Linked DNA regions of Homo sapiens. The protein of the gene in region 1 binds, or shares a complex with, the protein of each later gene. Each region holds a gene or a part of one and is shown on either strand. Other genes may lie near its edges. The genes, in order: TFDP2 and LIN54.

Evidence for each region.
Region 2: TFDP2 (region 1) and LIN54 share a complex: the UniProt entries of both Homo sapiens proteins name them as parts of the DREAM complex.

The regions. Positions count from the first base shown.
Region 1 is NC_000003.12:141,949,682-141,958,608, reverse strand, and holds part of TFDP2 (transcription factor Dp-2), read left to right. Parts: intron 1-5,592; coding exon 5,593-5,698; intron 5,699-5,912; coding exon 5,913-6,096; 3' UTR 6,097-8,927. UniProt on the Homo sapiens protein: Can stimulate E2F-dependent transcription.
Region 2 is NC_000004.12:82,978,620-82,987,546, reverse strand, and holds part of LIN54 (protein lin-54 homolog), read left to right. Parts: intron 1-2,670; 5' UTR 2,671-2,702; coding exon 2,703-3,386; intron 3,387-8,540; coding exon 8,541-8,664; intron 8,665-8,927. UniProt on the Homo sapiens protein: Component of the DREAM complex, a multiprotein complex that can both act as a transcription activator or repressor depending on the context. In G0 phase, the complex binds to more than 800 promoters and is required for repression of E2F target genes.

The DNA.
Region 1 (8,927 bases):
GCTGAGGAAAGCACATTACTGTTCCAGTCCACTGCATGCCCCTGCCCCAGGCTCTGTGCCCTTTCCCACCCCTCAAATATAACCATTCTCTTACATTTCATTGTCATTCACTTGCATTTCTTTAGAGATAAACCAAAATGGTAAACTGGAAATAATGTATTATTTAGTTTTGCCTACTTCTGGCCTCTATATAAGTGAAGTCATAGTAATATACTCTTTGGTGATTTGATTTTTTTTCACTCGATATTATGTTCTTTAGAGTCATCCATGTGATTTAATATAGATATAATTCATACATTCTTACTCCTGTGTAAAATTCCATTATATGAATACATCACAGCTTATCTGTTTATTTTACTGAAAATAAACTGTTTGTTTCCGATTGCTTGATGTTAAAATACAGTGCTGCTTTGAACATTCCTATACATGTATCCCAGTGACCACATGCAAACGTACAGATTGAACTTGTTAGGTCAGAGTTGGGTACATCTTCAGCTTTACTAGATGATACCAAAAATTTTCAATTTGATTTTACCAAATTACACGTTCCCCAGCAGAGTAGAAGTGTTCTATTTTCCTAATCAGGTGGGTCTGAAATGATACCATTGTAGCTTTTCTAAATTGAGATTGAATTCACATGCCATAAAATACACCATTTAAAAATGTCAGTTCAGTGATGTTTTGGTATATTCACAAGGTTGCTAATCATCACCACTATCTGATTCCAGAATATTTTAATTTAAAAACCCAAAAAGAAACCCAAACCCATTAACAGTCTCTATTCCCCCATTCTCCCTCAGCCCCTGGCAACCACTAATCTACTTTGTGTCACTATGGATTTGCCTATTCTAGAAAGACGCTTTATGTGAATGGAACCCTACAGCATGGGGCATTTTGTGGATAGCTTCTTTCACTTAGTGTAGTGTTTCAAGGTTCGTTCATGTTGTAGCACCATCAGTATTTCATTCCTCTTTATTGCCAAATACTATTCCATTGTATGGATGGACCACATTTTGTTTATCCATTCATCAGTTGGTAGATATTTGGACTGTTTCCACTTTTTGGCTATCTCGAATGATGCTGCTGTTAACATTCTTATAAAAGTTTATGTGTAAACATATGTTTTTATCTCTAAAAACATATACCTACGAGTGAAATTGCTGGGTCATATGGTAACTCTGTGTTTAACATTTTAAGGAAATACCAAACTGTTTTCCAAAGCTCCTGTACCATTTACAGTCCAACCAGTGGATAAGTGTTCCAATTTCTCCACATCCTTACTTACTTATTTAGAGACGGAGTCTCACTCTGTCGCCCAAGCTGGAGTGCGGTGACGTAATTTGGCTCACTGCAACCTCCACCTCCCAGGTTCAAGTGATTCTCCTGCCTCAGCCTCCTGAGTAGCTGGGATTACAGGCACCTTGCCGCTATGCCCGGTTAGTTTTGGTATTTTTAGTAGAGACAGGATTTCACCATGTTGGCCAGGCTGATCTGGAACTCTTGGCCTGAATTCACCTGCCTCAGCCTCCCAAAGTGTTGGGATTATACATGTGAGCCACCGTGCCTGCCCTCCATATCCTTTTCTACACTTGTCACTATACATCTTTTGAATTATAGCCATCCTCACAGAAGTGAAGTGATATCTCGCTGTGATTTTTGTGGGGGGGGTGGGGCAGGGTGGTGGTGGAGGGGAGAGAGTCTTGCTCTCCAGGCTGGAGTGCAGTGGCGCAATCTCTGCTCACTGCAGCCTCGAACTCATGGGCTCAAACGATCCACCCACCTCAGCCTCCTGAGTAGCTGGGACCACAGATGTGTGCCACCATGCCCGGTTAAATCTTTTTTTTTTTTTTGATATGTTTGGTAGAGATGGGGTTTTGCCATGTTGTCCAGGCTAGTCTCAAAGTTCTGAGCTCAAGCGATCCACCTGCCTTGGCTCCCACTGTGATTTTGATTTGCATTTCCATAATGACTTCTGATGTTGAGCATCTTTTCATGTGTTTATTGACTATTTGTATGTCTTCCTCAGAAATATGTCTATTCACATTGACTTTTTTTTTGAGATGGAGTCTCTCTCTGTTACCCAGGCTGGAGTGCAATGGTGCAGTCTCAGCTCACTGCAAGCTCCACCTCCCGGGTTCAGGCGATTCTCCTGTCTCAGCCTCCCAAGTAGCTGGAATTACAGGCGCCCACCACCACGCCCAGCTAATTTTTGTATTTTTAGTAGAGACAGGGTTTCACCACGTTGGCCAGGCTGGTCTCGAACTCCTGACCTCAGGTGATCCACCCGCTTCGGCCTCCCACAGTCCATCCTTTGCTCATTTTTAAGTAGAGTTACTTGTCTTTTTATAGAGTTGTAAAGTTATACTGAGTATACTTGAAAACAGAAGCACTATGTTTTACATGTCCTATAATTAAGATTTTTTTCACTAATTTAGAAATCTTCCTGATTTTCCTAATTCCTGAAAATATTACATATTTTGTAGATACAATTTGACTATATAGGTTGGGTGCGGTGGCTTACGCCTGTGATCCCAGCACTTTGGGAGGCTGAGGCAGGCATATCACTTGAGGTTAGGAGTTCAAGACCAGGCTGACCAACATGGCAAAACCCCATCTCTACTAAAAATACAAAAATTAGCCAGGCATGGTGACACATGCCTGTAATTCCAGTTATTTGAGAGGCTGGGGCAGGAAAATCACTTGAACCTGGGAGGCAGAGGTTGCAGTGAACGGAGATTGCACCACTGCACTCCAGCCTGGGCAACAGAGCGAGACTCTGTCTTTTAAAAAAAGAAATGAATATATAAGCAGTGTTTTTGCCTTTGCTTTCTTTTGTTTATTTTATTTGTAAGTATAACCATCTAGAATTTCACATCGCTTTTTAAAGGCATTTTAATACTAGGTCTAAGATACATTAAATCCAATGTAAGCAAAAAGGTAGCTTTAATTTTGTTTTATTCTATGATTTGGTCCTTTGCTCACAACAGAAGAGTTTGTTGGCTGAGATTTGGTTTCTGTTTTAGTTCTTCGGTTGGCACCATTCATCCCCTGCAAGGGCCCCCCGCCTCTCCTTGCCCCTCAGCCCACCTGTTCCGTCTCCCCACCCAGCTTTCCTCTCTCCACGCTCTCCAGCCTGGGTCCTGCTGTGTCATTGGAAGGCCAGCAGAATCTGAATAAAGGGCTTACTCAATAAATCACCAGAACTTTATTTTAGCTTACTCCCAGTGAAAAGGCTCAGGGCGATTAGGCAGGCTCTGTGGTTTTGATCTCTTCGTGACCTCATTTGCAGACTGGGATACAGACTTTCTGGTTAGTTCAAAGGAAGAAACATGTGCCTCTCGTGTGTAAAGGGGCAGAATGGCCTGGGTGGGAGTGTGAGAACCATTGTGTGGATCCTGTGATAATAGGAAAGAAATGTAGGCTTTTCCAATTCATTGTAAAAAGAGAATGTAATGTGTTATGCTCACAAACAAGTAAATAGCTGTGTTCTGACAGAAGGTTTCTATAGTTCTATATACTAATTAATATTCAGCACAAGATTCTGGCTTTAATTTTATTTTCTTGTACAGACTTGTCGTTATTTAATGTATTTAAAGTCTGCTATTCTTCTTAGACTTGAAGTCTCTTTTTTTTCCCAGCTGTCTCAAAGAAAAAGGTTCATAAGACGGTTCTAAAATTAGCATAGTCATTTAGTTTACTTTTTTCCTACGTGGGAATGGCCTCTTGTTTGGATACCAGAGTTTCCAATCTAAATCATATAGTTTCATTTTTTTGTATAGTAATTGCAAAAAGATTTTGATTCAATTAAATCATAGCTCATTTTGGCAGATTACATTTTCTGAGTATGTGTTTGGGCTTATAGAATTTCTTTTTAGGAATTACTTTTAATGTATCTACCACTTATTTTGTAAAGTGGCAGCTGACAGAGACTATACTCATTCATTCAGTAACTTTTTTGTTTTTTTGTTTTTTTTTGTTTTTTTTGAGACAGTCACTCAGGCTGGAGTGCAGTGGCACGATCTCAGCTCACTGCAACCTCCGCCTCCTGGGTTCAAGTGATTCTCCTGCCTCAGTCTCTCTAGTAGCTGGGATTACAGGCATGTATCACCATGCCTGGCTAATTTTTGTATTTTTAATAGAGATGGGGCTTTGCTATATTTGCCAGGCTGGTCTCGAACTCCTGAGCTCAATCTGCCCGCCTTGGCCTCCCAAAGTGCTGGGATTACAGGCATGAGCCACCGCGCCCCGCCACATTTAGATCTTACATGTTCCAGTTACTGCCTTCTTTGAGCTAACACTGTAGATGGGAAGATAAAAAGTATTAAACCAGTAAAATTACAATAAGAATTGATCAGTGTTGTCATAGGATAAATGTGGTATATGTATAGAAAAGAAGATGGCAAGGAGATATCCAAAATATTTTCTTTTCTTTTTTTCTTTTATTTTTTGAGATGGAGTTTCGCTCTTGTTGCCCAGGCTGGAGTGCAGTGGTGCAATCTCAGCTCACTGCAACCTCCGCCTCCCGGGTTCAAGTGATTCTCCTGCCTCAGCCTCCCGAGTAGCTAGGATTACAGGCATGCACCACAACGCCCAGCTAATTTTGTATTTTTAATAGAGATGGGGTTTCTCCATGTTGGACAGAACTCCCAACTTCAGGTGATCCGCCCTCCTTGGCCTCCCAAAATGCTGGGATTATAGGCGTGAGCCACCGTGCTCAGCCCAAACTATTTTCTGTAGACTAAAACAGTAACGTCTGTGTCTGCCTCATTAAAAACATGACTGCATGTGACCTTTTTAAAATAAGAGCTAGTTGTGGGGTGGGGGGAGGGGGGAGGGATAGCATTAGGAGATATACCTAATGCTAAATGACGAGTTAATCGGTGCAGCACACCAGCATGGCACATGTATACATATGTAACTAACCTGCACATTGTGCACATGTACCCTAAAACTTAAAGTATAATAATAATAAAAAAAATAAAATAAGAGCTAGTTTGAATTAGAAAGCAACAGACACCAGGAAAAATCTTGTCAGGAAAAAGAATAGATATTTGATGAGTAGCAGCATTGAGTTCACCAGCAGCAGGCACCTGAAAAGACATTGCGGCGGGGGTTTTGGCCAAAACATGTCTGTCTGCCCTCTAAGCAGGGTGGCCTTCTTACCTCATGTATTTCTGATTTGATTTTCTCTTTTCCCACTTCTGGCTTTGGCTCTCAACACCACAGTCCAGGTCTTTTGTGCTGAGGGCAGAAGGCATTGAGGGTGGTACACTGGGATGTATCCCATGGGCTGTGCTCTGGAGGGCTTATCTAAGAAAAAGAGTAAGAAAGTGCCTTTGAGTGTTTTCATTTGAATACCTTCTCTCCGTAAGCTGCCTTCCCGTATTTTTTTTTTCCTGCTCTTATGTTCTAGAAATTTTTTTTTCTTCCAAGAAGATGAAGAAACCTGGGTTCTTGTCACAGCAAGAGAATTGTCTAGCTGTCATGAAGAATAAGCTTAGCTCTTGCTTTTCTGTGCTTTCCTCAGACTGTAACAACAGCAGCCACAGAACTTGCAGGACCGACATTTTTTGTTCTCATTTTTTCCTTTAGATATCTCCACAGGACCTTCTTGGTTAAATCAGGGACTACTTCTGAACTCTACCCAATCAGTTTCAAATTTAGACCTGACCACTGGTGCCACCTTACCCCAGTCAAGGTACGTATTTTTTTCAGGGTTAGAAAGGCAAACCCCAGAGCCCTGACTGTCTGTGTAGGGGTGAGCCGGGGTCATGTTACTGCCAGCACAGGTCCTGCTGAGCAGGTTTGTGGCAGATCTCACCAATGGCACCTCCTTCCTGTTTTTATTCCTATGTTTTACAAAACTGTTTATACCACATTAATGAGCCTGTGTGTTTTTAATTGTTTGCTAGTGTAAACCAAGGGTTATGCTTGGATGCAGAAGTGGCCTTAGCAACTGGGCAGTTCCTGGCCCCAAACAGTCACCAGTCCAGCAGTGCGGCCTCTCACTGCTCCGAGTCCCGAGGCGAGACCCCCTGTTCGTTCAATGATGAAGATGAGGAAGATGATGAGGAGGATTCCTCCTCCCCAGAATAAAGACAAGAGAAAGCCTACGTTTCAATATGTGATGCTCATGTGTGTTTGTAGTGTGAGCTCTTGTTTTTGAAATGATTGCTTCAGTCTTTGCCTTTGTTTGCACTGTGTGTTCAGTGAAAACTAGAGAAACACAATAAGCAAATCACATGAAGGCTGAGATGATTGAGATGAAAGTTAACATAGTGTGAATGAAAGTCTGGCCAACAGAGCAGTAGATGATATAACAAAGAAAGCATGCTTTCTGAGGAGATAGTGGGGATAATCCCTGAAGAGTTGGCAGTGTGAGTGCAACTCATTTATCTTCTGTGAGGTGGGATTTTTGTGTTCCTCACACCCATGTAATTATTCTTAGAATTGAGATTGCTACACGGAGCAGTCCTTGACGATCGTGTTTCTGACGTTTCTCTTCCTTGCCTGGACTGCCTTTGACAAGGCAGAAATGAACATGAAAAGTCCCCAGGAGAGGGGAGCTGTGTAGTGAGGGATACTGAGGGCAGTCCTGTGGCTGAGGGGCACAGATTGAACTGCTGAACTAGTTGGAGGTCTAGATGAGGTGCTTTACGCATCAGCTGCCTTAGACAGCTTCTAGAAAGGAGCGAGCGCTACTTCTTAAGTACTTAAGTGACATTTAGATAATTTATAGTAAAACTGAAATTATTATTAGCCAATGCATTGGTGCATAGAATTTACTAGGGCTACTTCTGGAAGCCAAAATAGAATAGCATTTCCATGTGCATTAAATACTTTGCCAGCACTGCCTTTGCCAGCATCCTAAATCTGGAGTTTTACAAAGAAGGAAACTGTATCTTTAGGTTAATCAAAGCTATGCATTTCATATAGCTTTTTCATTTAAAACAAGACAAAGAAACAAATTCCTATGACCAAATTGCTTGCCTACAGTTCCCTGCAGTAATTGTATGATCTCACCCAGTGTGCAATTTGTGAAAATGAACCAAATGTCATTACTTTTGTCTTAAAGAAAAGTCTATTTCAAGAATATGAACAGCAGTGTTTCCTTGTACATGTCACCTTTTTTCACATTTTCATTAATCAGAATGACCTTATTGAGCCTACTCCTGGGGTCAATTGCATTTCAAACTAATCCAATATTTAGTGTTTCACAGAAACACTAGAAAACGTTGAACACTCCTACTGCCTGGATATATGGTAGTGCAGTTATGTTGTTTATGGCTCAAGATGTCATTAGAAATACTGCAGTGGTGTATTCACAGCTGCTCCTTCTCTGAATGAAAGAGTGTAGGGACACCTGCCACCATGGCCAGACCCTGACTGAATTTCACATTAAGGCTTTGGAAAGGAGCAAATAATAATGGGAGAATTAACTCCAAAACTTTGACCTGAATCATGTGGATTTGTCCCAAGATTATGCTAGATGCACCAAGCATGGCCCAAATTGGTTCTTTTTTAAATCCCATGGGGGAAGTGCAGGCTCCTTCCTGTGGTGCCTCTTTATAGCCTCACCACCATGCTAACACTGAGCATGGTGAGGAGGAGGAAGCTTTGGCTAGCTAAACATGTTTAATAAGGCCATAAAAACTGAGAAAGAAAAACATTCAACTTTAGCTGAAGCTCCTTTGATACAAAAGTTTCATTCTGTCAGAAATAAGCCATAGTACAGACTCAGAGATAGAGGCAGTTTCTAGAGAACTCGGTCTTATCGTGGGTTCTGGAGCACACCTCTCAGACCAGTCAGGAACACTGGGGAGGTGACAGCAGGTCCCCAGGGGCCTGCAGGGAATCTTTCAGCTGCACGGATTGGGATTTCCCTCCAAACCAAACTGTCCTTTAAGGGGCAGCCTCCTCTTTTACTAACTCCACCCTTTCTCATCTCTGGGACCCAGCAGGGACCTGGAGAGGCCAACAGCCACTGCTACCTTTGTAGTCTTCAAAATATTGAACTGCAGGTCCCAAGATGCATTTCAGGATTTAAGACAGGTGCACTAATGATAACCATTCCTTCACCAAGTAGCAACATTCTTGCCAGAGTTCTTGGGAAACCTGTTTTTTTCTCTACTCTCCATCTCTGCTGCTCTCATGCTTTAAATTGATAAAATATGGGCTCAAAAAAAGAAAGCCGCCAAAGACTCTTATCCTTATTGGTGCCCCATCATTGGCCACCCCAGCCATAGGTGTGTGCTGTTGGTGGGAAATGGTCTCCTTCCTCAGCGTTGTGTTTGGGTTACTGGTGAGGCCAGCTCACAGAGTGACATCATGGTCACCAGTACATGTCGCTGGAGTAAAATCTTGCCTTTAGAAACTAGGTTGAGCTGTTCAGAAAGGTCAATTCTCTTCTGTATTCCCCCTCAACATTTATCTGGGTCTAAAGCTCAGCACTGAGTCACAATTTCACACAAGATCAAAGTGAGGCAGTGTTAGGAAACCATGGGCTGGGTGCAGTGCCTCTCGCCTGTAATCGTAGCACTTTGGGAGGCCGAGGCGGGCACATTGCTTGAGCTCAGGAGTTCAAGACCAGCCTGGGCAACATGACAAAACCCTGTCTCTACAAAAATACAAAAATTAGCTGGGTGTGGTGGGGCATGCCTGTAGTCCTGGCTACTCAAGAGGCTGAGGTGGGAGGATTGCTTGAGCGCAGGAGGCGGAGGTTGTAGAGCCAAGATCACACCACTGCACTCCAGCCTGGGTGACAGAGCAAGACCCTGTCTCAAAAAAAAAAAAAAAAAAAATGGAAGTTGTGGTCACAATGCCCAGGCTTCTTTGTTATAGTGGCACGCTGGGTTACTTGCCACACACAGATCACTCCTCCCAGGGCTGCTGGCACACACTGATTGTGGGGAGTTCAAGAGGCCTTT
Region 2 (8,927 bases), on another chromosome or scaffold:
GGTGGGGGGTTGGGGTCAAGGGGAGGGAACTTAGAGGTGGGGTCAACAGGTGTAGCAAACCACCATGGCACACGTATACCTGTGTAACAAACCTGCATGTTCTGCACATGTATCCCGTTTGTTTTTTGTTTTTTGTTTTTTTCTTAGAAAAGTAGACTTATTTTTTCCCTGTTTTAAAACACCAATGGCAACATTTAAGGGAGTATAATTTTGGGATTAAGGTTATTAACTGTGGCATCTTTTTAAAAAAATTTTTGAGACAAAGTCTCACTCTGTTGCCCAGGCTGGAGTGCAGTGGCACGATCTTGGCTCACTGCAACCTCCGCCTCCCGGCTTCAAGCGATTATTGTGCTTCAGCCTTCTGAGTAGCTGGAATTACAAGCACCCACCACCACGCCTAGCTAATTTTTGTATTTTTAGTAGAGATGGGGTTTTGCCATGTTGGCCAGGCTGGTCTCGAACACCTGACCTCAGGTGATCTGCCCACCTCGGCCTCCCAAAGTGCTGGGATTACAGGTAAGAGCCAGTGTGCCCAGCCAAGATAATTAACTGTGGCATATTAAAAACCTGAGCTGGAGTCCTGGCTCTACCATTTACTAGCTATGTGACCTTAGGCAAATTAACCTTTCTAAATGGCCTCATCTATAAAACAGGGATAATGATGATTCCCATTTCTGAGTTGTTGTGAGGATAAATTAAATTACGTCATCAGTGTTGTAAGCACTCAATAATGATGGTTTATTTTGGTGGTAGTAGTATTTGCCAATGCTAATAGTTGTAATTTGCTACTTGTGTGTTAATTTTGGATGGGTGTTGTATCTTTTTTTTTTTTTTTTTTTTTTTTGAGATGGGGTCTCGCTCTGTCGCCCGGCTCAAGTGCAGTGGCACGATCTCGGCTCATTGCAACCTCTGCCTCCCAGGTTCAAGTGATTCTTCTGCCTCAGCCTCCTGAGTAGCTGGGACTATAGGTGCATGCCACCATGCCCAGCTAATTTTTGTATTTTTAGTTGAGACGGGGTTTCACCATGTTGGCCAGGATCGTCTCCATCTCTTGACCTTGTGATCTGCCTACCTCGTGATCTGCCAGAATGCCCAGCCGGGGTGGTGTATTTTTATATTTAAAAAAAGGGGGCCGGGCATGGTGGCTCACACCTATAATCCCAGCACTTTGGGAGGCCAGCGTGGGCAGATCACCTGAGGTTGGGAGTTTGAGACCAGCCTGACCAACATGGAGAAACCTTGTCTCTACTAAAAATACAAAAAATTAGCTGGGCGTGGTGGCACATGCCTGTAATCCCAGCTACTTGGGAGGCTGAGGCAGGAGAATCGCTTGAACCTGGGAGGTGGAGGTTGCGGTGAGCCGAGATTGCGCCACTGCACTCCAGCCTGGGTAACAAGAGCGAGACTCTGTCTCAAAAACGAAAAGGAAGAGAAGAAAGTTGCTGATTTGGTTCCTATGGATCTTTGATGTTCTCTGGGCAAATAACTCACTGCTATTTAGTCTGTCATAAACATGATGTGCTGTCTTTTATACATGAAGATAATAAAATTGATTCCTTTATTGGAAGTTCTACAGACCTTTGGCTAAAAGTACCACAGCTCAAAGTTTTTCGTAATCTGCTTTATGATTATTACTTTTTTTCTTCATGGGGATTGGCTGTACATCTCTTAAATGGTTCTTTTTGACACTTTAAATGGCGGAGGATGGCCAGGCACGGTGGCTCACGCCTGTAATCCCAGTACTTTGGGAGGCCGAGGCAGGTGGATCACCCGAGGTTAGGAGTTCGAGACCAGCCTGGCCAACATGGCAAAACCCTGTCTCTACTAAAAGTACAAAAATTAGCCCGGCTTGGTGGCAGGCGCCTGTAATTCCAGCTACTCAGGAGGCTGAGGCAGGAGAATTGCTTGAACCCAGGAAGCGGAGGTTGCAGTGAGCTGAGATTGTGCCACTGCACTTCAGCCTTGGCAACAGAGTGAGACTCCGTCTCAATAATTAATTAATTAAGTAAGTAAGTAAATGGCCAAGGAGGGTTTGAGAATCTTCTTTCCAAATAAAAATTTCCCTGGTATGAAGCTAGTTGGTCAAAGTTGTACCACAAATGCTATTTGATCTGCAATTGCTGAGATGTATTACTCTAGAAACTCCTTTAACTTTAATTTGGGTATTTAATGGATTTTTAAAATGGGATAGTACACTCATATTAGGACGTAGCTCATTGGAGATTTGAATGTATTTTACAATATGTTAATATTTAAATCTTTATTTCCTTGTGTGAATCAGCAGTTTTCAAGTCTGTCAATGAGAGGAAAAAAATCTGGGTAGAAATAAGATCAGATACATCAAAGATTACAAATTTTATTAGAGGGCGTTGGAAAGGAGTTTCATGTGATTATGTGACTTAGTGTTGCCTGAGTGCAAGATACTTGTGGATTGAGACGAGAGTAAGAATGTTTGCTTCTAGTTTTGTGTTCCCATATGACTTATATTATAGATTCTTGCAGGTTGAGGATGTGTTAACATGATTTAACCCAGATAAGCTTCAGGAATATTCTTCATTCAATTATATATCAATTTAAAAATTGTCATTTTGCCATTTGCATTTTTTTTGAATTTTTTTCTTACATCTTTTGAAACCTAGTAACTTGTTCATTTTTCAACTTTTATTACAGTGCCTGATCAACTTTCTAGCGGGAGAACGATCATGGAGGTGGTGCCAGCTGAGGTGAATAGTTTGCTTCCAGAGGAAATAATGGACACTGGTATAACTTTAGTGGATGATGATAGTATTGAGGCTGTTATTGTTTCATCCCCAATTCCCATGGAGACAGAACTGGAAGAAATTGTCAACATAAATTCTACTGGTGACTCTACAGCCACGCCCATTTCCACGGAACCAATCACAGTGTACAGTAACCACACTAACCAAGTTGCAGTGAATACCACAATTACTAAAGCAGATTCTAATACCACAGTGAAACCAGCTTTTCCAAGTGGCCTTCAAAAACTTGGTGCTCAGACTCCTGTGACTATATCAGCCAATCAGATTATTTTAAACAAAGTATCACAGACATCTGATCTTAAACTTGGCAATCAGACCCTTAAACCAGATGGACAGAAGTTAATTTTAACAACTTTGGGCAAGTCTGGTTCACCAATTGTTTTAGCACTACCCCATAGCCAACTACCCCAGGCTCAGAAAGTTACAACTCAGGCCCAGTCAGGAGATGCTAAGTTACCACCGCAGCAAATTAAAGTAGTTACCATTGGAGGGAGGCCAGAGGTGAAACCTGTCATTGGTGTCTCAGCATTGACCCCAGGAAGTCAACTGATTAATACTACAACTCAGCCCTCTGTGTTACAGACCCAACAGTTAAAAACAGTACAGGTAAAAGAAAAAAGGGGGCTTACTAATTAAAATGCATGTTTAAAAAAATTTAACTGATTCATAGTTGTGTTTATAGGGTTACTAAATACATAGTTGTTACTGAATTCTTTTGAATGTTGTTTTATGTAATTGTGTGTGTGTGTTTTTAAGTTTGATATGTCTAATGCTTATGAAAATTTTTACCAGATAACTTAGAAAGCAAACTTAATTTTGGTTAAATTCCAAATTAGTATATTTATAGCCTTTTACTAATTTTAAAATGCATTTTATTCTTAGTGGTAGTTTGATTACAAGGATGTTTTGCTGGTATAAATATGCCAGACTTGCTGCTGGGCTATCAAAAAAATCATGTAGACAACATTTTTTTTTTTCAGTTCACAGATGGCCAAAGGCTAGGAGAACTTTGTTGCTCTGAGAAACCCTCAGAGCCAGTAATAGTGCGTGTCAGCCAGCGTGTGCCTTTTATTTGGAGTTTACTGTTCATTGCCATTATTCATGTTTGTACTATGGAAAAGACAGTGACATGTGATGGAAGATAACATACAGGCTTTAGAGTTGTACCAACTGGGCTTGAGTTGCCTCTATCTTATCCTACCAGTTATGGAAAACTTTCGTAGGTTACTTATCTTCTCTGAGTTTTTGACTTTATCTTAAGAATACTTTTTGATCAAGATGAAATGTGTAGTATAATTCTCAAAATATTGAGGATGTTTCATAATGGTACCTATTATTAGTATGAATAGGACCCTAAGAAAGAAGGTTACTGGAATATATATTAAGTGATTTCCAGTTTATCATGCCCAAATAGGCTTTCTTAGGCCACCACTACTCTTGGAAATGCAGTGATCGGCGGGGCGTGGTGGCTTAAGCCTGTAATCCCACCCAGCACTTTGGCAGGCTGAGGTGGGCGGATCACCTGAGGTCAGGAGTTTGAGACTAGCCTGCCCAACATGGTGAAACCTCATCTCTACTAAAAATACAAAAAATTAGCCAGGCATGGTGGCGAGTGCCTATAATCCCAGCTACTCAGGAGGCTGAGACAGGAGAATCGGTTGAACCCGGGAGGCAGAGGTTGCAGTGAGCCGAGATCGCGCCATTGCACTCCAGCCTGGGTGACAAGAGCGAAACTCCATCTCAAAAAAAAAAAAAAAAACAAGAAATGCAGTGATATACTTATGACCAGGAAACAAAAATGTATCCTCTGTTTGAAAGAGTTGTCTTTGAATGCATAGAAATAATAGGAAATGCATAAGAAGGAAGTAGGAAGGTTTTGGGAGACTACACTCAGCTGATATTAGAGTAATGTTTTGGTTACTGTTTTGACAGTAGAATTAGAAACCACTTTTCATGGGCTTTGCATTTAAGAACTTTGTAGAATTTCTTAAATCTTATAATTTGCCTCTGTCCCCTTTGCCATTATTAAACATTTAGTGCTCTTTCTTGTTCATTATTACTTCTCACTTATCTATGACTTCCTTTTACTTCTTATTTTTGCCAAGAATCTCTTGGATGAGATATCTTATCACCATCAAGCATCTTGTCCTCAGTTTTGAAGCTTGTTTTTATTGGTTTACCAAAGTTTATTTGGCTTTGGCAATATGGATCATAATTATGTTCAAAAGAAACTGATGCCAGGTGTGGTGGCTCACGAACCTGTAAGCCCAACACTTTGGGAGGCCAAGGTGGGCAGATTCTGTGAGGCCAGGAGTTCGAGACCAGCCTGGGCAACATAGTGAAACCCTGTTTCTACCAAAAATACAAAAAATTAGCCCAGCATGGTGGCGCACACTTGCGGTCCCAGGTACTCAGGAGGCTGAGGTGAGAGGGTCGCTTGAGCCGGGGAGGTCTAGGCTGCTGTGAGCTGTGGTCGCATCACTGCACCTCAGCCTGGGCTACAGGAAAACCCTGTCTCAAAAAAATAAAAATAAACTAAAAAAGGAAAAGATATCATAAATTAGAATGTCATTTTTTTCATTTATGAGAGCAAGGTATATGTGACATTTCAATGACCAGTGTTGCTTGTATCTATTATTTCTCTACTTTAACTCCCTAAGTAATGACAATAAAAAAAAGACTGGGGTCTAATTCTTATAACTTGTTTTATTGTTACTTTTCTGTTTTGTTTTGTTTTGTTTTTGAGACAGGTCTCTCTGTCACCCAGTCTGGAGTGCAGTGGGTGCTCCACTGCAGCCTTGACCCCCCAAGCTCAAATGCTCCTCCCACGTCAGCCTCCCAAGTAGCTGGGACTACAGATGCAAACCACCACACCTGGCCAATTTTTGTATTTTTTTTGTAGAGATGGGGCTTTGCCATGTAGCCCAGGCTGGTCTCAAACTCCTGGACACAAGCAATCCACCTGCCTTGGCCTCTCAAAAGTGCTGGGATTACAAGCATAAGCCACTGCACCTGGGCTATTGTTAGTTTTCTAAAGCCTGTTTCTATCTAATAAAAAAGAATTCTATTAAAAAAAACAATAAAAAGGAATTAGATTTAGAATTTTTTTTACTTGTACAATCCATTATTTTTAGGCGACTTAAGTCTTTCCATCTCAGAAGTAACCTCAAAGCTCTGAAGCACAAAAGACAAATTAAAAACTATGCATCTATATTTTTTCCTTTTTTGACACCAGAATATTTGGTTTAGTATTACAAAGAGTATATGATTTTCTGGTTTTTTTCCCCCTAGGTAGTTGTCAGTGTTAAGTTTAGTCAGAGTATTGAGACTGTTAGGGTATAGATAGCAGGCAACGGTGGAAGATGGAGGCCATCTTGAAAAATGAAGAAAAGAGGTGACCTTTGAAGCCAGAGGCAGTAACAGAGGTATAATTATATGTAATAACAGATATATAAACACTTTCCCATGTTTCCTGTGCATAGTATATAAGAGTAGTACATAACTAGCAGTCTGGAACAATATAACTCCTTACTAGCTCCTGAATCTATCCAACACAGTGCCAAAAATTACTTGTATATATTATTTGATGACATATTTTACTACCTTATTTGTAAGTTTTTTTTCATGTTTATCTTAAGCTGCTGATTCTATAAACTTGTTAAAGTAATCTTTGATGCTTTGTTTTACTTAATAATTTTGTTCCAGGATACTTTAGAATTCATAGTGCAAAAAAATCATAGTTCCTTAATGGAACCAAAAGTTATTATTTTCAGCACCACTAAAGAAACATAACCACAAGGGCAAGATGAGATTGTTTATTTGAATAATTAATGTGCTTCTGGTTGTACTGTTTATATTTTTTTCTTACTGATAAGTATTCATATACTCATGATTGTGAAAAATCAGTTTAAAATGGGGAAATACTTTAAGCCCATAATTGTTATAGCTAAGGTTATTTATTGCTAATATGGCTTTCTAAGAATATTAATACTTCTACCTCTAGAGATTGTTAATATTATAGATACAATAGATACAATTTTGACTGACTTTAGGGTTTTAAGTCTGTAAACATACTTGAGAAATTTGTATTTCTCTAAATTTCATTAGCTTTCTAGAGTATAATTATAGATTTATTTGAGTATGTTATAGTTTTGCAAGTCGGCCGTTTTTAAATACAATAATGGGTATGTTTTTTTTTAAGTGATTTGTATTTTATATACAGTTGGTTTTTGTCAGTAATGTGCTCTGAGTATAAAAAAGTAATATATTGTAGGTGTAAGATGTGTTATTTAGTTTAATTTATAATTTGAGCACAAAGAGCTAATATTTGTCTAGTTCTGTGATCTATCATAACTTCCGGTGTATTTCTGTTATTCATGTTGGTCATATTTTTTCATTTGAGTCACTATTTCCTATAATAAATAGTTCTTTTACAGTCTCAATTTTCATTGCCAAAAGATATAATTAATATTTAATGTTCTTCACACTCTAAAATTCTTTGATTTTTATCCCAGGTAAATTTCTTCTTTTAACTTTTAGAAGAAGCTGTGTCTTTGTATATGGTGATAATCGCAATATAAAAAATTGGTAACTCTACACTCCTTGACTTGTGGAGAATTATAATTCAGGTCAACAGTGTGCCAATATGTAACTTCAAATTGGAGATGAATTAAATATAGTTTCTCTCTTCAAGGAATTTAAAATATAATAAACAGTTGCTGTAGCCCAGGAGTTTGAGGCTGCAGTGAACTATGAGTGCACCACTGCACTCCAGTCTGGGTGACGAGATGAGACCCAGTATTTTTTTTTTTTTTTTTTTTTTTTTTTGAGACAGAGTCTCACTCACTCTGTCACCCAGGCTGGAGTGCAGTGGTGCAATCTCGACTCCCTGCAACCTCTGCTCCCGGGTTCAAGCAATTCTCCTGCCTCAGCCTCCCGAGTAGCTAAGATTATAGGTGTGCGCCACCACACCCTGCTTATTTTTGTATTTTTGTAGAGACAGGGTTTCACCATGTTGGCCAGGCTGGTCTTGAACTCCTGACCTCAAGTGTCTGCCTGCTTCAGCCTCCCAGAGTGCTGGGATTACAGGCGTGAGCCACTGCGCCTGGCCAGGACCCCATCTTTAAAAGAAGAAAAGTGTAGTACATAATAGTTTAGTAAATAATATTTCAGAGCTGTTGCCCTTATAATAGTTTCTGTTCTACCAAATTTTTCTCTTTTGTACCCTAGGGCTTTAACTTATTTAGTTCTCCCTTAATCTACTCCTGATATTTAGATCTAAAGTTGAAAATCTAGTCATAAGCCTACCTTTAATGTGTATTTATTTATATTTTGCATCCAAGGGCCAATGTAATTGTGTATATAGGTGGCTTTGTCATTCGCACTATACTTTCTTTACTTACTCTTTTTATTATTGAGTAATTTGTTATTTTGAACAAGAATATTACTGTGCCACAGTTTTATTTTTTCATTAAGCATTATTATTAATTTTGTTTTCATCATATGCATATATCCAAGACATGAAAATAAGGAATTGTAATAAAATGCAAAGGTATTATTATATATGGGATTAAGGATATAATAATATTAATATTTTGATGAATGTCTGCATTTTAAATGTTCTTAACATTAACACACAGATATATTCTGTTAAGTGAGCTGGTTTTACATGTGCTACTTTGTGTGAATCTTTGGTATAATTTTGATTTAATAGGCATTTTATAGAAACAGATGGTCTTCATAGTTATTTATATGTTTCAGATTGCTAAGAAGCCTCGAACGCCAACCTCTGGTCCAGTAATCACGAAGCTGATCTTTGCAAAACCAATTAATAGTAAAGCAGTTACAGGACAGACAACTCAAGTTTCACCACCAGTTATTGCAGGTTATATTTCTTTATAGTTTATTAAGCTAAATATTTATCTTCCTTTTAGATTTAAAAAGGCTGTTCTGCCAACTTAAAATGTTTTAGTGTAACAAATATAGCTTATTATTATAAACCAGACTAGTTAATAAGAAGTGTTTGCTTCAAGCAAAATGCCTCATCTGAAAATCAGTTCATTACTTTAGTCTCCTTAGTTTTTGGTAGAAATTTACCATGATACTAGCAAAGTCTCAAACTCCAGTAATAGTAGCTAATATTTATAC